3 separate regions of the Homo sapiens genome follow, and regions 1 and 3 are each linked to region 2. Evidence: fine-mapped expression QTL. A gene starts in region 2. Each other region holds a variant in brackets. All regions are shown on one strand. Distances are from middle to middle.

Region 1 (8,190 bases), 23 kb after region 2:
ACCTTTCAATCCCCTCGGAATGGGGCCTCTGGCTGGCTGACCTCTACTCTTTCCACAAGAACAGTGTCTGCATTTGAGTGGAAAGAACATGTGTACAAGTGAGGACTTGCCCCACTTCAAGATGAGAATTTCTGATCCATAGACAGTCTGCTTTGGGAGTTGATGAAATCTGAAGTGTGGCCTTTTATAGGAAGCTTTTTCAAGATTTTAGGTTTCACTTTGAGAGAAACATGATATAGGAGGAAACTGGGCTGGATCAAACAGTCACCATCTGTATTTGCATTTAACATACAGAAATCATAAAATTTTAAGGCTGGAGAAGACTTGACCAGATGACAATCTGGTCCTTCTCCCTTCTTCCTATACGCGAGGAAGATCTGAAGGAATTAAGTCATGAATAACCTCAGTCACCATCTATTGAGTAACTGAGATTAAACTCAAGTGTACTGACATCCAGGAAGTAATTCAGTTCCTCTTACTCCACTTGTAACCTGAAAGGCATTTGGGAGAAACTATGTAAGACTTGGAGAAAATATAGAGCTCGGGCCTGTAATCCCAGCACTTTGGGAGGCCGAGGCGGGTGGATCACCAGAGGTCAGGAGTTCGAGACCAGCGTGGCCAATATGGTGAAACCCCATCTCTACTAAAAATACAAAAAATTAGCTGGAAGTAGTGGCAGGCACCTGTAATCCTAGCTACTTGGGAGGCTGAGGCAGGAGAATCACTTGAACCTGGGAGGCAGAGGTTGCAGTGAGCCCAGCTCATGCCATTGCACTCCAGCCTGGGCAACAAGAGCAAAACTCTGTCTCAAAAAAAAAAAAAAAAAAAAAAAAGAAAATATGTTATTTTCTTTGTATGATTATTACCTATAAAAATACAAAAATAATTTCAAACGCTATAAAAATTTTTAAGTTTCTAAATGGTTTAACATGTGTTAAAGCCATCTTTGTCTCATAACCACCTGTAACCTATGACATGTTCAATGAGAAACCTTCCAGAAGCAACTCACACTGGGAGTTGGTCTAGACCTCTGAAGTGGAGTGTAACTGATAAGGAAAAAAGAAGCTCTAGATGTCTCTCTTGAACCCCCATTCCCACCAAAAAGGCCGGGCTTATATGTCTGGGAGTTGCCAAGGGCAAAAGAAACTTGGAGGCTTAAGACTGGCAATGGCCAGGCCAGGGCAGTCTAGCCCAGCATGTCAATTCTACTGTGGGTCCAAGGCAAGGATTCTAGATCCAGAGTACCCATGAGCTGGGGACAGAAAAAAAGGAGAGGGGACAGGAAAGTCTGGGAGCAAACAGGTAGGAACCAGACACATAGAACTGTTCCCACCTAGGAATAAGCCCATCACTCTCTAACTGTCTCAGCATGGATGGTCTATGGTCTAGGCTGTAAAGTGTATCCATCCTAAAATATGGAAATACTAACGTAAGATCAGACTTTGACAAAATAAATGCATGGGGACTACAAAGTGACTGAATGCTTAAAAGGGTGGAAGTAGGAACGGAGTGGGGAATGGAAGATGTCAGAGAAGAAAGCAAACTCTTCTTAATGGGGCAGTATTGATGAAAATGAGCCTTTGCTACTCAATGCTTTTATCTGCCTTTCACTGACTCATCACTTATACCCTTTTTTTTAGCTAATACATCTTTAATAGGCTTCATTTTTTAGAGCAGTTTTAGGTTCACAGCAAAATTGAATGGAAAGTACAGAGAGTTCCCAGATACCCCCTACCTCCCCACACATAGCCTCCCCAACTGTCAACATCTAGCACCAGAATGACATATTTGTTATAATCGATGAGCCTACATTGACACATCATTATCACTAAAAGTCCATAGTTTACACTAAGGTTCACTCTTGGTGCTGTTCATTCAATGGGTTTTGAAAAATGTATGATGACATGTGTCCACTATTATAATATTATACAAAACAGTTTCACTGCCCTGAAAATATTATGTGTTCTGCCTAGTCATCCCTACCTCCCTGCTAACCTCTGGCAAACACTGATTGTTTTACTATCTCCATAATTTTTGTATTTTTCCAGAATGTGATATAGTTGGAACCATACAGTATGTAGCCTTTCAAACTGGCTTTTTCACTCAGTGACATGGATTTAAGGTTCTTCCATATATTTTAATGCCTTAATAGCTCATTTCTTTTAGCACCGAAAAATATTCTATTGTTTGGATGTCCCACAGTTTATGTATCCATTCCTCTACTGAAGGACATCTTTGTTGTTTCCAAGTCTTGGCATTTATGAATAAAGGTGCTGTAAATAGCCATGGACAGGTTTTTGTGTGGACATAACTTTTCAACTTATTTAGGTAAATACCAAGGAAGGTAACTGCTGGATCATATGGTAAGAGTATGTTTGATTTTGTAAAAAAAACTGCCACACTATCTTGCAAAGTGGTGCAGCCACTTTGCATTTAGTAGTTTGCATTTTTCTAATGGCATATGATATTATATCGAGCATCTTTTCATATACTTGTCATCTCTGTATGGTCTTTGGTGAGGTCTCTGTTAAGGTTTTTTGCCCATTTTTTAATCAGGTTGTTCATTTTTAATTGTTGAGTTTTAAGAGTTCTTTGTATATTTTAGATAACAGTCCTTTATCACATATGTCATTTGCAAATATTTTCTTCCATCTGTGGCTTATCTTCTCATTCTCTTGCAGAGCAGAAGTTGTAAATTTTAATGAAGTTTAGCTTACCAACTTCTTATTTCATGGATCATGACTTTAGTATTGTATTTTAAAAGTCATTGCCATACCCAAGGTCATCTAGATTTTTTTCCAGGGTTATTATCTAGGAGATTTTAATAGTTTCACATTTTACATATAGGTCTATGATCCATTCTGAATTAATTTTTGTGAAGGGTGTAAAGTCTGTGTCTAGATTCAATTTTTGTTTTCCATTTGGATGTTCCATTGTTCCAGCACCTTTTGTTGAAAAGTTTCTCTTTTTCTCTATTTTATTGCCTTGTTACTTTGTCAAAGATCAGTTTTATTATATTTATGTAAATTATTTCTGGCTTCTCTATTCTGTTCCATTGATCTATCTGTCTATTCTTTCACCACTATCACACTGTCTTTGTTATGGTATAGTGTTGGTCCTCTGACTTCGTTCTTCTTCTTCAATATTGTGTTGGCTATTCTGGGTCTTTTTCCCTTCCTATAAACTTTAAAATCAGTTTGTTCATGTTCACAAAATATATTGCTGGGCTTTTTATTGAGAATGCATTAAATCTATAGATCAAGTTGGGAAGAATTGAAATCTTGACCAGATAAGTCTTCCTGTCCATGAACATGGAATATCTTTCCAATCATTTAGATCTTTTTAAATTTTTCTTATCAGAGTTTTATACTCTTCATTATCTAGAACTTCTTCATATATTATTAGATTTCTACCAATTTCATTTTGGGGAATGCTGATGTAAATGGTATTGTGGTTTTTATTTCAAATTTCATTTGTTCATTGCTGGTATATGAGAAAGCAATTGACTTTTTTTTTTTTTTTTTTT[TG/G]GAGACAGGGTCTTACTCTGTCACCCAGGCTGGAGCACAGTGGCATGGTCATGGCTCACTGCAGCCTTGACCTCCCAAGCTCAAGTGATCCTCCCACCTCAACCTCCCAAATAGCTGAGACTACAGGCACATGCCACAGTGCCCGGCTAATTTTTCTATTTTTTGTAGAGACATGGTTTCACCATGTTGCCCAGGCTGGTCTCGAACTCCTGGGCTAAAGCAGTTTACCACCTCAGCCTCCTAAAACTGCTGGGATTATAGGCGTGAGCCACTGCACTTGGTTGCAATTGACTTTTGGATGTTAACCATATCCTGCACTAGTTCCAGGAGTTCTCCTTGTTGATTCTTTCAGATTTTCTAAATATACAAATTTTAAAGTTTTGTTACACCAATTTCTTCTTTCAGTTTTTGTCACTGAAGCAGCAGAGGTAGGGGAAAGGGATTTGTGGACAGAGACAATTTTTCTTCTGATTCCCCAGGCTGAACTGAGCAGAGCTGGAATTCAGATCACAGGATACCTGGAAGGGTGGCCAGTGGAAAGGAGAGATAGTGGGGAATAAGATAATTACCCACTTTCCCGATTTTTTTTGCCTGATTCTCAGCTATTGAGTCCTACCTCCCTTTCCCCGATGCTTTCTTTGCCCAAACAGCCGTGGATGGTTGGAGATCTTCTCTCATTCTCAGGGCTCTGGACAATGCCTCCAAAATTTCTAATGCAGAACTGGCTGGTCCTCAAGTTTGTTCTTCTGCAATCCTGGCTACCCAGCTGGTCTCCAAAGTCTCTTCAGTTAAGCAATCTGGGGCTGGGGGGTGGGGAGATCTTTGCGGCTTTATCCTACCCTTCACGTCCAACCACCCAGCAAGCCTGGGCCAAGTCAAGCAGCCCCTACAAGCAATATCCTACCAATGTGTATTCAACATTGATTTGGTCAGGATATGGAGAAATGTATTATTTTTTAATCAATAAAAAGTCTAAGTAGAAACAGATTTTTAAAATAATCCACTTCTACTAGCTGAAGAACAGGAAATGTTCTAAAAAAAGTTTAATGATCAGTTCCCATTTTTCTGAAGCTCATCTTCTCACTTCAGTTTTGTTTATTCGTAATTTTAAGAACAAGAAATCATTTTGAGAGGTATATGAAAGGGTGAGTTAAACCACTCATTCTCGGGAAACAGCACTAGGCCACCTACTGTTGACTCAGAAGTTTCAACTGACCAAGAGTGCACAGGTGCATCTCAAAAATATCCATTTTAGATGCGCTGCTGCTAATAAAGTGTTGTTTTCATTTCCTTTTGAGAACTGTCAAAAGACAAAATTACAACAAATGTAGTTAAGTGATCTAATTGGCTTTTATTTGTGATGAATGGATCAGGGTACTATCTCCCATAAAAATTTAGAAAAGGTGGCTGGGCACCATGGCTCATGCCTGTAATCCCAACACTTTGGGAGGCCAAGGCAGGAGGATCACTTGATCCCAGAAGTTTGAGAACAGCCTGTGTAACAGAGAGAGACCCCCATCTCTACCCAAAATCAATCAATCAATAAAATAAAAAATTTAGAAAAGGTGATCTGATGAGCTAAGCAGAAGAGGTGGGCTTTATAGGCAGAAAAGGGGTTAAAAAAAAGCAGAAATAAGGAACAAAAAGTGAATCGGTCATTTCAAAGTTACTTTCCTTATCGGATTAAAGCAGGGGGTACTCCTTTATCATGCCAGCTAAAACTGGCCTGTTAGGGGATTTGGCTATGCTGTCTTTCCCTCTTTCTCTCTCTCCCCCTTAGTTTCTTGAAAGGTAGATGACTTAGTTTCTGTTTGGTGACATGAAACTTTAGCATGAGTGACTCCATTTTGGTTTGATCTGTAGAGGCCCAGTCCAAATCAATAGCATCGTACAAATTTTATTTAAAAGAATAGTGCTGCTGGGCGTGGTGGCTCATGCCTGTAATGCCAACAATTTGGGAGGCTGAGGCCAGTGGATCACTTGAGGTCAGGAGTTTGAGACCAGCCTGGCCAACATGCTGAAACTCCATCTCTACTAAAAAATACAAAAATTAGCCAGGCATGGTGGTGTGTGTCTGTAGTCCCAGCTACTCAGGAGGCTGAGGCATGAGAATTGCTTCAGCCTGGGAGGTGGAGGTTGCAGAGATTGCACCACTGCATTCCAGCCTGGGCGACACAACGAGACTCTGTCTCCATTAAAAAAAATAAAAAAAGGATAGTGTCTACCTCAGTGAGACTGGAGCCAGTTTTTAGCTCCACAGCTACATAAGGAGTTGATAGAAAAACTGGAGTAATGAACACTGTTTTCCAGTTCATCTCACTGGTGTGTGGAGTTGATTTGGTTTTGCCAGTGTTATTTAGCATCCTTTTAAAATCACCCCTCCCCAACCCATCTCCTCGTACAGCTGCCCACAGGCCTGGCTCAGAAATCTGTCTCAGAAACTGAGTACCACCTAGTCTAGTCACAGTTTCTTTATGAACTACTCTGCCTTGGCTCACTGACTTGAAGTTGACAACTTACTCTTGAATAATTTAACTCCTTTCTTGGAACTGACTCCTTCTTCAGACTTCTCTTAACTTTCACTTCTGCATGTGGGAAGAAAGTAAAGGTATTAGAGACACACTGTGTAACTGGCTACAGGGTACATGGACCTTATTTCCCCCTCCCTGACAGCAAGGGCTTGTACTCAGCCTGATGTCTGGGCATAATATAAACCTAGCTTGATCTCTATTCATCACAGTCTCCACCTTTACTTACTTGAGTGTGATGATTTGTTTGAGATGTTTTGCTTTACTCATGAGGGTATGGAAATACGAAAAAAAGATAGATTGACTCATACTGTAATTCTACACTGATACATTGCAGCAATATTAACATTAATTCAATTTAAAATTCCACATTCCACATGTGTATTTGGCAATGTAGTTCTGGGAGGTAATTTGGAAATACATATCAAAACCTTAACAATAGTTACATTAGTCAAGAGCCTTGATTGCCAAAGACAGAAAGCCAGTTCAGATTAGTTTAAATAAACAGGGAAATTTATTAGGTCAAATAATTGGACAAGTCTAGGGAAGCACCTTGCTTCGGTCATGGCTGAGACCAGGAACTGAAATGATGGCATCAGGCTGGGCGCAGTGGCTGACACCTCTAATCCCAGCACTTTGGAAGCCTGAAGCAGGAGGATCGCTTGAGGCCAGGAGTTCCAGACGAGCTGGGGCAACATAGTGAAACCCTATCTCTACAAAAATAAAAATAAATTAGCCAGGCATGGACGTGCACACCTGTAATCACAGCCACTGGGGAGGCTGAAGCAGGAGAATGGCTTGAACCCAAGAGTTTGAGGCTGCAGTGAACCATGAACGCGTCACTGCACTCCAGCCTGGGTGACAGTGAGACCTTGTCTCAAAAAAAAAAGAAAGAAAGAAAGAGAAAAAAGATGTCAGTAGGAATCCCCCTTTGTCACTTCATTATTTAGCTCTGCTTTCTTCCATGTTGGCATCAAGAGGGCCCTCATCAGTCCCAACCTTAAATGATTTTTGGTGCCATTTAAGAATTTCAGAAGGAAAGAGATGTTTTCATCCAAGAGTTATTATCAGACCTAGAAAATTTCCCTCTTATTGGCCCTACTTAGATCATATGCTCACTCCTGGACCAGTCACTGTGCCTGGAGTGGTAGGAGACAGGGCACTCTGATCAGTCCCAGCCATGTGATGAAACATTTTACCAGTTGTGGGAGAGGCAGATACTAAAAGGCAATGAGAGAGTGAGGTAGGAGGTCAGTTCTATCATGTGAAAATGAGAAGAAACTCTAGGCAGGCAGAAACAAGTGATATCAAAATACAATGTTCATTCTCGTCTATGAATATTTACCCTTAAGAAATAATCAGAAGTGTGAGAGAGTTATGCAGTTATTCCTCACAGAATTATGTATAATAATAAAAATTGGCTGAACATGGTGGCTCACGCCTGTAATCCCAGCATTTTAGGAGGCTGAGATGGGTGGATCACTGGGGCCCAGGAGTTCAAGACCAGCCAGGCAACATAGGGATACCCCTGCACTACAAAAAAAAAAAAAATTAAAAAATTAGTCAAGCTTCGTGGCACATGCCTGTAGTCCCAGCTACTCAGGAGGCTGAGGTGGGAGGATCACCTGAGCCAGGGAGGTTGAGGCTGCAGTGAGCCATGATCACGCCACTGCACTCCAGCCTGGGTGACAGTGAGACCTTGTCTCAAATAATACAATCTAGAAAGAATTGGAATGTTTAATAGTAAGGGATTTCTTGAATAAATTGGTACCTGGATTCAACAGAACACTATGTGGCCTTTGAAAAGTATTATAGAGGAAAACTCAGCGACATGAAAAAATGTTCAAGGTATCTTGTTAGGCACAACAACAGTATGCGAATCATGATCCCAATTTGTGTGTGTGTGTGTGTGTACATACACACACACACACACACACATATCTTTTTATATACATTTTATGCATATTATATACATTTTATCTATTTAAAACATAACATGTAAATGTTATGAAAGAGTGAAATAATATACTTTACAATGTTGATTACTTCTAGTTGTTGAAATTAGGGATAATTTTCATCATTCTGGTACTTTTCTCTATTTTCTACAGTAAATGTGTCTTTTTAAAAATTAAAAA
Region 2 (8,190 bases):
TCTTCCCTAAGATCTGTGCAGAGCTCATCTAAGAGGCAGGCTACCTGCCTCAGCAGACGTTCAATGCAGATAAGCTGTTCCTGGTGGGAAAAGATGCCCCCAAAACTTGAATCAGCAAGGAGGTAACAGTATGACTGGTTTTCTTTTGATAGACCTACTCACACACCTTTTTACTAAGACAATCTTCCCAAACCACCTGTACTTAGAAGAACTTGGAAACTTTTTATAACAAAGCGAAGTCCACATCTAAGTATCTCCATGAAATGATGGGCTAAAGATCTGCCAATCAGGGCATGGTAAATGGAAATGATATACCATCACTATTAATTTAAGGTATGTTTCAAAAAAAAACTTTTTAAAATTTGTTTTGCCATCTCTGTCTTATTTCAATAATATAAACACACGTGCTTTAAATCCTGGCTTTAGTTCTGCTACTCTTCCCATTAGGTTTTAAGCTCATCAACCATCAACTGTCCTAGTATAGGTGTCTTCTAGAACCTACCCCATTGAGTCAAGTGGAGAATACTTATATTCGTTCACAGAGACTATGACTCTGGAGCTGTACTTAAACTATGAGTACGGTCAACTGCAGGCACTGACAAAGAAGCTGAAGAGTCTGGATCCTGCTGGACAGTTAGGAAAAGGCAGGCAATACCTCTCCCACCGCTCACCTGCTGTATTCCCTGCCTAGGTATACTTTTTTTCTAACCTTTAAATCCAATTGAATTTGTGATTCCAATTCTTAAACAATAACAAATGTGGACTATTCCTGAAACTTCATAAATAAAATCAGGTGGACATTTACAGTACTGAGTAGGCCTATACAAGACACTGTGCACTTCTATAGCACCCTTTATTTCACAAACCCAAAGAACTGTCAAAGTTGCCCCAACATAAAGTATCAGTGATGGAACTTCTCTCATTTTTACATGTACAACACTCTATTCACCCTGTTTCTGCCATTATAAGCATAGCTATTCATGAAAATAAACTAAAAGGGCTGAGACCAACATTCAATCATTAACTAAATTTCAACTTCATAATTCAACCCAAAAACTATCCAGTGCCAAGTGGTTTAAAAAATTATAGAACAGGGCTGGGCACATTGGCTCACACCTGTAATCCCAACATTTGGGAGGCCAAGGCAGGAGGATCACTTGAGCCAAGGAGTTCGAGACCAGGCTGGGCAACATAGTGAAACCCTGTCTCTACAAAAAATTTAAAAATCAGTCGGGCGTGCTTGTGCACACCTGTAGTCCGAGCTACTCAGGAGGCTGAGGTGGGAGGATCGCTTGAGCCTGAGAGGCAGAGGTTGCAATGAGCCATGATTGCACTACTGCACTCCAGCCTAAAAGACAGACTTAAACTCTGTCAAAAAAAAAAAAAAAAAAAATTACAGAACAAAGCCAAACACAGTGGCTCAGGCCTATAGTTCCTGCAACTTAGGAGGCAAGAAGATCATCTGAGCCCAGAAGTTCGAGTCCAGGCTGGGCAAGACAGTGAGGTTCTTTCTTTAAAAAAAATAAATTACAGGACAAAATATACAAAGACGCAAACATTCCATTAAGCAAAAGAGTTAATATGGAATAACTTCTCACTTCTAAGTTCTTATGAGTACTTATAGGTAATAAGTCAAAATTATTAAAAAGTCCCACTCAATAGTTATATTTAATCTGCACCAAGAATAACTTCCAAAAATGGATTAAAATAACATGTCAAAAATAACTCATTTACTTGGGTGTTATTTTGGAACTCTTTCTAGAAAACTGACCCCAAAATTTAGATGTCAGAAGAATGTATTTCCCAAGTCAAGTTTTTGAAACTACAGATCTGAGGAAGACCATCATGAACAGGAGAGAAAATATGGATTGCAGTTAAGCATGCCATATGGGTACAAGCCAGAATGCCTGGGTCAGAATCCTGGTCCTACCACTCAATAGCTATCTAACCTTAGTACCACAGTTACTTCATCTGCAAAACGGGAATAATAAAAATACCTACTCCATACAGTTGTTGTGAGGATTAAAGCCAGGCAAGTAAGTAATATATGTAAAGGATTTAGCAGGAAGCAGCATTATATAAAGTATTTACTTATCATCATTATCATATGACTAGATCACTTAAATCATCCACAGAAACGCCTTTTCCTATTTCAGTCTTCCTTAATTGGTCTAGCAGCACTTAATCCCTCCCTCCTTGGCTTCCTCATAAAACACATTTTCTATGGTATTTATTTGGGTAGGTATATTTCTCTCCCACTGGATCACATCTCCTTGAAGACAGCAACCACAGTTCGTCCGAGTGTACAGAGTAGCAACCACAGTTCGTCCGAGTGTACAGAGCAGCAAACACTGTTCACTGTTGCCTTTCATTTCTCTCCCTCTAAAGATTCTGAACAATAATACCCTGTCAATTAGCAAACTTTTACCTGGAGACAGAAGGCTTATGCAACCAGTGCACTTAAGTACTGGTCATACCTTGCTAAAGACTTTCTTAAGACTTAAACAAAAATTTTGGGGGGAAGAAGAGGAGGATATGCTTCATGTTTATAAACTAACCAAAGACAGATTTTTAATTTTTTAAAAAAGTTATGTCTTAAAAGCTTGCTTTCATTATTTCATTCAAAAAGACCATGGTGCTTTTAATATAAAAATACAGAAGCATAATTTCTGCATATGTCAAGTCTAACCTAATCATAACTTGCCAATCTGCTGATTTTAATGTAATCCTAAGGATGCTAGACAACAATATGCTTGCTTGATTCACCTGACACTATTTACATAAAATAAAAGCATTTTAACAATACATCGAGATGCAAATCTTTCTGGCTCTGATTTGTGCCCTTTCTCCCTCTTAACAAAAAGTGCCACACACACACAAAAGAGCCTCCAACTTATCCTGGATCACTGGGGAGGCACTTTCTAAGGTGCGTTATCCAATTTCACTAACACAATGATGCTCTCCTTACTTTAAGAGAACAGAACTTTTCTGAAAGCAAACAGCTGAACTGAGTCCATTGCTTTGTTATCATTTTTTAGGAAGTCCAATTTCTCCTTTGTTCTTACAGTGTCCTACCTTTAGAAATCAAGTTTTCAGCATAAAAACTAACAAGGACATCTATTTGTTGGCACAAATCATCTCAGTCTCCATTCTTTGACTTATTTTAAAACAAACTCAAGAGCAAATGGCTAGAGAAAAACTGCTTCTATTTAATGTGTGTTTTCTAAGTCTAATTTTTTCATTCCTAGTGGCAAGGCCTTTCAAAAGAGTACAAAAACTACACCCAACTTTGCTTCTCATTCTAAACACATCACAACCAAATGGGAAACATTATCAGCCATCTTAACAAGGAGAAAACAAAGCTAAGTGAGGTCAAACCAAAACATTTTTTAATTCATTGTACCTACCTATTTTGAGATCAGGATTTTTCAGATGGAAGTAGTTTGATGAACTTATGCAATAAAATTATGTAATATCATAATTTAACATAATATTTTAGACTAACTTCTCTCTCCTCAAATAGTCACAAGGGTGGCTAATTCACATACAATACCTCTCAGCCACTGGGGAGAGAGTATAATAAACTTAATTGTTTTACATATCCTGAGGCACAGAGAGAAAGGCCAATCAAATTCAAAGAGGTTTACAGTACCTTATATACATATATGATTGAGACAAAGAACTTTCAAGAATCTGTACTGAGGAAGCAAAAATGGGCTTAAGTACAATAGGCCCTGCCTTAAAGTAGAGAGACCGGTCAAACGTAAGCCCCAGCGCCAAAAAAGACAAGGTCTCACTCATCAATCCCCATCTTACAATCAAGAGGCAGAACTTAAATCACTTAAAGCTGTTTTTTCAGATTTGAGCAGTAAAATAAGCTAATAGGCCATTTCCGATTAAGTGGCTTCTCTCAAAACTTATCACAAGTTATGTGAAATGGGTAAAAGTGTTGGTTCTGCATTTTATCAAGTGAGAAACAATAGCATCCTACTTTTGGACAAGCCACTACTTCCAGAGCCACTAGCCCTCCCCCCACCTCCCACTTCTTTTTATATCATTCCTCCAAACTTAGAACCCGAAAAGCTATTCCACAAAACAAAAGCAGCACCAGTAAAAGGGGAGGCCACTGGTTTTGAAAATAAAGTTTGTTCTTTTGCTGTCAACCTGGCAACTTTTTAAAGGTGAAACGTGCCCTACTCAATCGGTTATACTCTTTTCTACTCCCACACCAAATAACCACTCGTTCGACCTCGATACTAAAGGTGAAAAAAGGAGTGGGAGAAATGATTTTGAAAGGAAGGGGCTACGGGTGCAATGGTAAAGACAGATTCTAAGACTGGTTTTGAGCACTCCGTGGCTTCTAGGAGCTGGGAGGCTTTCCTGAGTCTGTCTTGAGAAATGTTTGGCAATCTGACGCATCAGTTTTTAGGAACGGTACACAAACAGCCCCCACAATTGAAGAGCCATGCTTCGGATCCTGGCTCTGGGTGACATCGGCTGGAGGGCACGGGACGGGAGCGCTGGGGCTACCCGGAGAGGATCCGCGACATTTGTTATTGTTTGTGAAGCCCAGGCGGGGACCCGGAGCGGAGTGCTCGGGGGCCGGGGAGTGGAAGGAGAAAGGAGCAGAGGACAAAGATTCCTCCCCGGGTGCGAGGCTCCCTCTCTGGACACATGGGGCCAGTATCACCCCGGGGAATAAGAGGGCCAAGGCCGTCGCCGCAGGTTCCCCGGAGACATTTCCAGCCCCAGAATTAGCCCGGCTTTCCCTGGACACCCAAAGACACCTAAAATCTCCTCCTGCTCCTGCTCGCAGAGTTGGGGCTGGCGCGGCGAGCTCGGGCCCTCAGCCGAGCGCTACATCCGCGAACTCACCTGCCTCCGGTCGCGCCCGCGGCCGGCTCAGCCTCCGCACGGACCGCAGCCGGCCGGGCGCCCGTCAGCTCCCTTCTCCCCGCTCCGCCCTCGCCCCGCCCCCGGGAGGTGGGACCCGCGGCCTCGCCGGAATCTCAGGGCGGCCTCCCTGAACTCTCGCGAGCCTTGCCTCCTCGGCTTCTCGGTGGCTGGGTCGGTCCGACTCGCCCTGACGTCATACGCACCACAGCCGGAAGTAGCCTTCTGTCGTCAACGCCCGTCTTCCCGGCCCCACCCATCTCCGCCTGGTGAAGGCCAGACTGGTTTTGAGGGAGTTGACTGAACTGTCGCCACTTCCCCTCTCACCAGCCTCACCTCACTGCCGTTTTTACGCCAAACCTGTTCAGGCCTCTCTTGAGAGTGGCCTAATGTGTTGCGACATTAGTCACATTCTAAATGTCATCCGAATTTTTCAAACAGTGCAATGCAAAGAATGTTAGAAATGGAAAGAGAGAATTCACGCATTTTTCAGATTGGGAAACAGTTGTCAACAAAGATGGATCAGCTAAGTTGCTCAGTCGGTAGCTGTGGGGACTCGAAGCCACCCAGGTTCCTTGACGCTTCCATTTCACCATGAGGGGACTCCAGAGACTGGAGAGGAACCAGGATTTGTAAATGCCACAAAAAATACATTAAAAACCTGTTTGAGTTTTCTTGGAAAATCTAAAATAACTACAGTACTGGCCTGCTTTATCAGTAGGATCTGAGAATTGTGCAGAAGAGCACTCCCCTATAGGATGACCCAAAAGGGACAACTTTGGGAAGGTTGATGCAATTTGCGTCTGGGGACAAAACTGGCCTTTGGGAAAGCCAAATGAGAGAATGACTCCCAATTATTGTTGGCAAGTTTATCCTCAATATGAGTATTGGAGGTCTTATAAAATATTCTTAGCTTTTAGCTTACTGAGACAACGTATGAAGCTGGTACTGTGCTTGCAAAAACTATCACTTAGAAATGCCACCTGTCATCTTTAGGTTTCCCAAGAGCAGGTGACACGAGCAAAACACCTAGGAAAGAAGCATTACCTCATTTCTCTTTCTTACACTGTGCTTTTTCATACATAGCTTAGTAGTGGGAAAAGCTCTAGTTTGGTAATTAGTGTATTTTTGGGGAGATCAGCTCCACTTATATGGTCATTTTGAAACTCAAATGACAGTTGTCATATACAAGCATAGGAGGTTTAATTGTGATCAGACAAGCTTGACAGGCCTATACACCCTTCTCCCTGTACTGCACGCATACACATACCATTCAAATGCTACGATAAGATTGAGAACAGTGTATGGTTTGTTCCACAGCAAATTTATGTCTTCAAATGTGCCATACTAGAGTAATATGAACTAGTATAGAGTAGCAGTCTAGGTTAATATGGGATAGCCTAAGACTTTGACCTCTAGTTCCTAAATTCTCCTAAATTGAGACCATTGTAAACAAATTTCCCTGGGAAGTTGTTGAAAGTACCTCAACTGAAACAAATTAGAGCTATGAACCAGAATTTTGGTGGTCTATGGACCCCTTTTCAAAACAGTGTTCTTAAATGCATAAACTACCTAGGGTTACAAAGGAAATTGATAATGTTAACATACAGTTACCAAAATACTAAAAAGTGAGTTTGTAATATAATTATGTGGTAAGTAGTAGTAGCATCTAAGATGGCTGCCAATGATCCACGCCTTCTAGTATTCCTGCCTTCTGTAATTCCCTTCTCTAGTAACTTAGTTCTTAAAAAGGAAATATAGCAAAAGTGATTAGGATATCATTTCCGTGATTAGGTTACAAAAATATTCTGGGCTCCATCTTGCTTGTCCTTGCTCTCTCACTTGCTCGCTTTCATGGAAGCCAGCTGCTGTCTTGTGACCTGCCTTACAGAGAAGCCCACATGGCAAGGAACTGAGAGAGATCCAGTCAACAGCCACCAAGGAATTCAGGCCCCCAGTCCAACAACCTGTGATGAACTGAATACTGCCAATAATCATGTAAGTAAGCTTGGAAGTAGATTCTTTCCCAGTTGAGCCTTGAGATGACTGCAGCCCCACCTGACACCTAGACTGCAGCCTTGTAAAACCAGATACTGAGCCAGCAGGCCCAACTAGCCAAGCCCAGATTTCTGGCCCACAGAAACTGTGAGACAATAAATATTTGTGGTTTTAAGCCACTAACTTTTGGGATACTATGTTACACTGCCATAGATAACTAAAATAGTTATATATTTGCCTCTTTATTAATGCATTAAATAATAAGATCAAGACCTACAGTAATTTTGTAGTAATGATACACAGAAACAATATTTTGAGATATCTACAACAACTTTAATGGGGTAGAAAATATGTGTGATTCCTATTGAGGAAAAGTCACAGGTATTGCTAATATTCCTGTGGTTTGCTGCCTACATTCATGATGGAAGAAATGCTAATTTTCAGTTTGAGTTTAGTGAAAAAATTACATAATATGTAATATATATAACTATATAACTATACATAGTCATATATGTAATATATAACTATATGACTATACATAGTCATATATGTAATATATATAACTATATGACTATACATAGTCATATATGTAATATATATAACTATACATAGTCATATATGTAATATATATAACTATACAGAGTCATATATGTAATATATATAACTATACAGAGTCATATATGTAATATATATAACTATACAGAGTCATATATGTAATATATATAACTATACAGAGTCATATATGTAATATATAACTATACAGAGTCATATATGTAATATATATAACTATACAGAGTCATATATGTAATATATATAACTATACAGAGTCATATATGTAATATATATAACTATACAGAGTCATATATGTAATATATATAACTATACAGAGTCATATATGTAATATATATAACTATACAGAGTCATATATGTAATATATATAACTATACAGAGTCATATATGTAATATATATAACTATACAGAGTCATATATGTAATATATAACTATACAGAGTCATATATGTAATATATATAACTATACAGAGTCATATATGTAATATATATAACTATACAGAGTCATATATGTAATATATATAACTATACAGAGTCATATATGTAATATATATAACTATACAGAGTCATATATGTAATATATATAACTATACAGAGTCATATATGTAATATATATAACTATACAGAGTCATATATGTAATATATATAACTATACAGAGTCATATATGTAATATATATAACTATACAGAGTCATATATGTAATATATATAACTATACATAGTCATATATG
Region 3 (8,190 bases), 68 kb before region 2:
CATTTCTGCCCCCACAAGAAGCTCAGTTAAGTTATTTATATATATAGCCTTCAGTCTATTTCAAAAAGAATGAAAAAGTTGAACCTAGAAGACCTGGCTTCCCCACTCACTACTAATGTGTTCTTGGGCAAATTATTCAATTTCTCTGAGGCTCAGCTTCTGCTTACATAAAACTAGAATAATAATACCTGCCCTAATAGAGTTGATATGAAGATGAAACAATAAACGGCATGTGTTTTGTAAACTACAAACTACAAAAATAAGCATGAGGTATTTTCATTATAAATGTAATTCCAGGGTACTGCTTATCCTTTAGGAAGCTATGCAGTTTTTAATTCTTAATTCATATAAAATCTTACAAAAATGATTTCTACAAGGCAGTAATTCTCAACCAGGGGTAGTACTCTTGGGGCCATGGCAAAATGTAGGACCACAGATTTTGTCATCTCAGTGACATAACTGGCATTTACAGGGCAGGGGATCCAGGTGCTAAAGAAATTTCCTGCCCCAAACACTGAGTCCTCTCTACTTCTCCCTTGGGAAACACTCGATCTAAGGCTTGGCAACTACTGGCCATGAGAATAATAAAACACACACCTGAGTAATCACCCATGAATATTTTGTAAATAGGGGGGTACAGAATTCCCCCACCATAATTTTGAGCAGTATTCAGTTTTTCCCCTTTAAAAATAGGGAATATTGCAATTATTCTCAATTGCAAAACCTGATCTAAAATGGACACATTTTAAAAGTAGAACAAAGTTTTTCTCCTTAATGTGTAACTCAATACATTTAAAAATACTGAAATGTTTTACAAGTTTTTGCAGTTACTTAGGTTAATGAGATAATAAGCTCAATAATGCAAAGGTCATTTTATTTGGTTTTAGAGGGTATTAGCCTATTATTTTTCAGTCTGTTTACTTTCCTGAGGGAATGCTGAATTAGTTTTCCTTTCATCATTTGGTTGAACAAGTATTTATAGAGTGTCCGTATGTGCCAGGCATTTTATAAGAAATGAGAAAAAGAAAATCCTAAGGCACATTCTTAACCTGTAGACTGTTGATGGACCATGTTAACAGGACAAAGGGAAAGAGGAGAAAGGGGAAGCAATTCTTCTATTTGCTCAGTTATAGAAAGGAAATAGTATGGGGTTAAAAATAATGTAATTCTATATTAAAGGAGTAATTAAATTTATCTGTGGCAAAGCCAGCTTTTTCAAATTTTATCTGTTTTATTGTAACACTGTTTACATCCCAAACTTCCTGTTTACTTTGTCTATAAAGAAGTTTTTAGAAACTCACAACCACCTTACTTGCTGATTGATATTTGTTGTATCAGGATTTGTAACACAGTTATGAAAAATGGAAAAATGGAAATCACAAGGCATTCATTACAATTGCATTCACCTCAGTGAGTTTTATTTAAAGTGCTAATTACTAGTAAACAGCTTACTTGTAGGTATGCTCAGTAAACTACTCTAAAGTTACAAAGTAAAAACCAACACTTTGCTTTACAGGCAAGGAAACTTAACAGAGAAACTAAGAAAACTGTGTGATCCCAGAGCAAGCGCTACCATTGTTATGAAGTAAATACTAATTATTATAAAGATAAAAATAATCAAGTTAAAACCAGGTAAGATTTTAGAACCAAGGCATAAAATTCTCTTAAAAACTGGTTGACTCACCAGTTGTCTCCTGTTCTTCTTCCAAGTTTCTGCTTTCCTCTTTGAGTTCATGTTCTGAAATGCTAATTTCAACAATATGGAATTGTAATCACGAGGGAAAAATGCTCTCCACAAAAAGAAAATACATATACATCTAAAACACAGTGGATTAAGGAGTGGGGAAAGGGAAAGAACCTTCTGTTCTCTACAGTATCTTAACCAGGGGAAAGAAGAAAAACAACAACCAAACTTACAGAAGTCACTTGGTGGGTTGTGTGTGAGATTTCTATAAAATTCAGTCCTGTGAGCTTTCTTTAATCCCGTACATAAACCAAAATCAGATAATTTTACATGACCCTAAAAAAAAATCCAGTAAAATTAGATCATATTAACTTTGAAAACAAAAAGCCTTGTTATAAACTCCTCTATTAAATGGCAATTATAATAAAAATTCTTAGCTTGGGATTTATACACGTAAAATGTAAAATTTTAAGTATCTGATGATGATTTTTAAAAGTAGAAAATGGAGGGAGATAAAAAGAGAGCCATATTCCCTGTTGTCATTTAATTCCCAAGTCCTCTCCTAGTACCTTATCATATAATGTTGTTTAGCAATATTCTAAATTGCAGTTGCTGATTTCCATTCACAAAATCAGCCCTACTGCTCTAAAAAATAATCAACAGCCTAGTAATTCACCAGTTTATTCACATGCCTTGGCATCCAATAAAAGGTTGTCTGGCTTAATATCCCGATGGATGAAACCCAACTGGTGGATCGCATCTATTGCCAGAACAGTCTCTGAAATGTAGAACTGTGTTTCCTCTTCTGTCAAGGTGTCTTTCTTCATTAGCAATGTCATCATGTCACCTAAATAAAGGATAGTCAAATATATTATTATTGAAAATGCCTCAAAGGTGGAATACCTTGTAAAAGCTTTCCTGCTTTTTTTACTTTTTTTTTTTTTTTTTTGGAGACAGAGTCTCACTCTGTTGCCTGGGTTGGAGTGCAGTGGTGTGATCATGGCTCACTGCAACCTCCGCCTCCTGGGTTCAAACAGTTTTCATGCCTCAGCCACCCAAGTAGCTGAGATTACAGGTGTGCACCACCACACCCAGCTAATTTTTGTATTTTTAGTAGAGATGGGGTTTTGCCATGTTGGCCAGGCTGGTCTCAAACTCCTGGTTTCAAGCTATCTGCCTGCCTTGGCCTCCCAAAGTACTGGGATTACAGGCATGAGCCACCATGCCCAGCTAGCTTTCCTGAGTTTGCATTTTATGATCTACCCAGTATATTTCTAACCACATCTTGGGACAAATAAAAGTGCTATTGCATAGCAGAAGTTTCATGACTTTTAATGGTTTTAAGGCAGAGACCATGTGAAATCAAATCACAAAAGAGCTGATAATGAAGTAATATCTACCACTCAACTTCTAGAATTAACTGCTGAGGAAAATGTCAAACTGCAAAAAAATCAGAATAAGTGCACCTGGAAACGAAATATATTCTTTTAGAGTTTAGTGGGACATTATCCCACTAAAAAAGGCACCTGCAGACATTCTTTTATTTTCAAGGAATTTTAAAAGTTTTAACAGTTTTAACTGTTGTAAACACTGGTGCACTTACAACACAGAATTGACAACTGATTACATTTTTTTCATATATTTTTTGAGGCTTTAAAAAAAATAGGGAGCCAGGGGCAGTGGTTCACGCCTGTATTCCCAACACTCTGGGAGGCTGAGGTGGGTGGATCACTTGAGGTCAGGAGTTTGAGACCAGCCTGACCAACATGGTGAAACCCCGTCTCTACTAAATACAAAAAAAATTAGCTGGGCATGGTGGTGGGCACCTGTAATCCCAGCTACTCAGGAGGCTGAGACAGGAGAATCGCTTGAACCCGGGAGGCAGAGGTTGTAGTGAGCCAAGATCACACCACTGCACTCCAGCCTAGGCAACAGAGCGAGACTTCATCTCAAAAAATAAAAATTAAAACAAAACAAAACAAAACCCAGAATTCTTTGCCCTCCATTGCCATTCTTTTCCCCTTGCCCTCTTTGCTGAGCAATGATTAAACCTCTTTCCTTTATAAATTACACAGTCTCAGGTATTTTTTTTTTTTTTTTT[TG/G]AGACGTAGTCTCGCTGTTTTCGCCCAGGCCGGACTGCAGTGGCGCTATCTCGGCTCACTGCAAGCTCCGCCTCCCGGGTTCACACCATTCTCCTGCCTCAGCCTCCCAAGTAGCTGGGACTACAGGCGCCCGCCACTGCGCCCAGCTAATTTTTTTTATTTTTAGTAGAGACGGGGTTTCACCTTGTTAGCCAGGATGGTCTTGATCTCCTGACCTCGTGATCCATCCGCCTCGGCCTCCCAAAGTGCTGGGATTACAGGCGTGAGCCACTGCGCCCATCCAGTCTCAGGTATTTTTTGTAACAACATAAAATAAACTAACACAACTTATAACAACCTAATTATATACAGTGAACCCAGAACGGTAATATTTAAAATGTGCTAACTTTATAATTCCTTCAAAACAATCTGTTTTGTGGTAAAAATGAGCATCAATATGGTAGTAAATATTTTTAAACTGTGACTATGTAAAGCCTCAGAGCAAAGAATATAAAAGTAAACCTCACCAATAAAATTATTGTTGCATATAAAGATGTGCTTGTATCAGTCTGTCATTGATACAATGTTTGCTTTTACCTCCAGGGAGAAATTCCATGATTAGATAAAGATTCCTCTTATCCTGAAAACTGTAAAACATCTTCACCACCCAGGCACCATCTGCTTCTACCAAAATATCTCTTTCTGCTCGGATATGGGCCACCTAGATGAATATATTTTTGAAAAAAATAATTGTAAATACATCACACATTTGTTAAACTCATCTCTTACACTTATCCATCCATAACAGTTAATGAAGGAAAGATGGAGTTTCAGAAGATTTGATACATGTATGAATGTTCGTATTCTCATCAAATATGGAGAACCTCAAGAAATAGTTTATTTTAGCTTATATCTTTAGGTCTGAAAAGGTGAGGTCAACAGGTATATTACGTGAAGCTGAGGCCTCTGAGGTAGAGCAAGAATCAGTCTAACAACTTTTTAACCAGAATCTCTACCCAGCCTAGGATCCTGGCTTTGTCACATAAATTTAGGGCACTAGTGTGATTTTTAAAGTTAAAAGTAGTAAGCAGGGCCGGGCACAGTGGCTCACGCCTGTAATCCCAGCACTTTGGGAGGCCAGGGCAGGTGGATCACGAGGTCAGGAGATTGAGACCATCCTGGCTAAAACGGTGAAACCCCGTCTCTACTAAACATACAAAAAATTAGCCAGGCATGGTGGCACACACCAGTAGTCCCGGCTACTCAGGAGGCTGAGGCAGGAGAATCGCTTGAACCCGGGAGGCGGAGGTTGCAGTGAGCCGAGATTGCGTCACTGCACTCCAGCTTGGTGACAGAACGAGACTCCATCTCAAAAAAAAAAAGAGTAAGCAATGCCCTGTAAATTGGTACAGCAAACCTAAGCTTGGCTAAAAATAGCAAACTATTTTTAATTGTTAAACAAAGGTCCCAGCTTGATCATTATTTGGTGTTTTTTAAAGAAATAGTAACAATTATAGTAACTTTATGTTATATTATTGTTATAATATAAAACCTCTACCATATCTATAAATGTTAGCTAAAGCAAATTTGTGTAACTTTTGGGGATTTTGCCACTGATTTCTCGGACACATAATTACTAGAGATACTATCATGTGAAAATGTTATAGACTGGAAAATTTTATAAACTGGATAATTTATGGGGTTGGTATAACTGGTCAGTTTGCAGATGCTTTTGCATTAATATATTTATACACTTTTTCCAAAGATTAATAAGATTTGATTTATGCTTTTGCTATTTTCATTGTGCAACGTTAAAAACTCTGGTCCAAAGCACATGAGAACATACATTTGTAAACCTTTCTATGATAATAAAATATGATCTGCTTAAAGTGTCATATTTGGAATTACTCCTAGTGCAGTAAATATTCTGAGATCAAAGCGTAAGAGTTGAGGAGTAAGAACTTGTCTTCTGGCATGAAAATACTTTATAATTTCTATGGATCTGTTTCATTAAGTGAAAAGTGGTAGCAAGAGTGCCTACCTATTACCTTTCATGAAGCAATTTAAGGTGGTAAGGAAAAGCCCTAAACTTTGGTGTTGCATCTGGTGTGTAAGGAAAACAACTACAACATAAACATGGCTTGATTATTTTTAAATGGTTTAAAGCCAAATTACAGGATCCCTTTCCAAAACAGGATCCAAAGGTTGGAAAGTATGACCTATAGTAATCTGGTAGAACAACAGTGAGGAGATCAGTTGGTATTTAATTTTGTGGGGGTGGTTTGCATTAAAATAAATGTGATAAAAGTTAAAATATTGATGTATTAGAATTGAGTAGAAAAAAGCTTTCTAAAACAAAATCCAGTGGTAACAAATGCAAATTAATTTATACAGGGGTAAAAAACAACCCCAAAATGCAAAGGCAACTAGACGTTAGGCTACGGAGAGATTTCCGCCCCCCACCTCCCCACAGGAAAGAGCAGTGGTCCAGAGGCTCCTTAACTTCCCACAAAATATTGTAGACCAAGGGCTGTCCAGTACAGATGTAACACAAGTCATGTATGTAATTTTTAAATTTTCTAGAAGCCACATACAGAATGAAATTATTTTTAATAATACAGTTTATGTAACCTAATATATCCGAATATTATCACCTTAGTATGTAATCAATATAAAAATCATTGAAATATTTTATTTATTTATTTATTTATTTTTGCACCAAGCCTTATTTGCTGGATATCCCAATTTGTGCCCAGTAGCCACATGTGGCTGGCTGGTATCTACACTACAGCTGGAACTAACTGCTTCCTTCTGTCCTTCCTATTATACCCTAGTAGGACTAATCCCATTATGGCTAAGTTAGATTCCTGTTGCCCTCCCTGTCTCTGAGGCTATGCATCTTTACCCACGTCCTTATTGCCATCATTATCTTTCTTTTTTCTTCCTTTTTGTGGAGAATGGGGTCTTGCTATATTCCCATCATTATCTATAGTTCTCTAATCCAACTCAGTATCTCAACCTTCCTTGCCTTCCACACCTCTTCCCTCTGGGGAATCATAGCCTGTCATCAACAAAATCCCCTATAACCCTGTCTCCTGATGGTTCCTATTACCTTCTTAACCTAACTGAAACTAGGGTGAAAAATCACCCAGCTATGCCAATGGGTTTCACTTTAAATTCATGACTGCAAATCTCAATGAGCCTTCAACTGCATTTCCTTAGCAGGTCTGCTTTCCCGCACCTGAAAATGACCATTTCACAATTTCTCTCCTTAAATATTCAAAAAGCCATCCCTCCTTTACTCGAAGCCACCCCTTGTAACTGCATTAAGGCACAGGAAACATGCAGAGAGCCCAGAATATTTACAAGGTTACAGATTTTAGAAATATGTAAAATCAGCAAATTTCCAGGAGACTAGTTTTGATTATCTGATATGTGACAGGGATTCTGGGAGCTGAGAACTGTCCTTTATTTTCATTGTAGTCAGAAAAGGAGGTATTTCAGAAGGTATGTACTGAATGTTCATGCATCTACAAAATTCATAGAGTAAAGCTTTAATCTCCAATGAGGCTGTATTTGGAGATGGACCCTTAGGGAATTAATTAAGGTTAATTAATGAGGTCATAAGGGTGGAATTAATGTCCTTATAAGAAGAGACACCAGAGAGTTCTCACAGGAGTGTGTGTCCCCGCACACACCAAGGAAAGGCCATGTGAAAACTTAGTGAGAAGGTGGCCATCTGCAAGCCAGGAAGAGAGGCCTCACCAGAAACCAAAACCTGCCCAAACTTTCATTTTTGACTTGTAGCCTCCAGAACTATGAGAAAATAAGTTTCTGTTGTTTAAGCTAACCAGCCTGTTGTGTTCTGTTATGGAAGTCTAAGCAGACATACATAGATTATAAATTTAGAAGAAACCTTAAAAGAACTGAGAAACACTAAAACAGGCTACCAAAAAATTAATAGCTTATGTAGTAAGATGTGTAAACTGCTTCTTAAAAATTCTAATATAAACACTCTTAACACTGCGTCAGTGGATGCTCCTTTATATTACATGTGTTAAAGAACTCATACCTGCTCTTTTTCAAGCATATCAGACTTTCTCAATATCTTCATTGCATAGATATGGCCTGTATCTTTCTTCTGGACCAACCGCACCTAAAAGATAAAAAACATATATTATAAAACAGTCACTACTATTTGTTCAGGAAAGAAAAGTAACTTCCCTTAAAGAAAGCAGGAATTTGCCAGTGTTGGTATTTCAGGAATTTTATATATATATATCTATATATTTTTATATCTATATATTTTTATATATGTTATATATATATTTATATATATTTTATATATATTAATATATATTTATATATATTTATATATTTACATTTATATATATTTATATTTATATATATTTTTTTATATATACA

The links.
Region 1: its variant is fine-mapped to the expression of STK38L in whole blood (INTERVAL, PIP above 0.99).
Region 3: its variant is fine-mapped to the expression of STK38L in whole blood (INTERVAL, PIP 0.98).

The regions. Positions count from the first base shown.
Region 1 is chr12:27,218,327-27,226,516 of GRCh38, reverse strand. No RefSeq gene overlaps it. Among named protein-coding and RNA genes, the nearest start is that of STK38L, 22 kb to the left of the region's middle. RefSeq lists enhancers at 4,137-4,206, 5,866-5,935, 5,956-6,125, 6,266-6,315. The variant TG/G (reference allele first, on the strand shown) is at 3,527.
Region 2 is chr12:27,241,018-27,249,207 of GRCh38, reverse strand. STK38L (serine/threonine kinase 38 like) reads right to left here and starts at 4,922. Exons shown (of 14, transcript NM_015000.4): 1 at 4,876-4,922. RefSeq lists enhancers at 3,514-3,563, 6,152-6,211 and a silencer at 4,854-5,093.
Region 3 is chr12:27,308,845-27,317,034 of GRCh38, reverse strand. It overlaps STK38L (serine/threonine kinase 38 like), which reads right to left. Exons shown (of 14, transcript NM_015000.4): 5 at 7,838-7,921; 6 at 4,363-4,486; 7 at 2,377-2,531; 8 at 1,918-2,020; 9 at 1,685-1,746. Among named protein-coding and RNA genes, the nearest start is that of BMAL2, 20 kb to the left of the region's middle. The variant TG/G (reference allele first, on the strand shown) is at 3,786.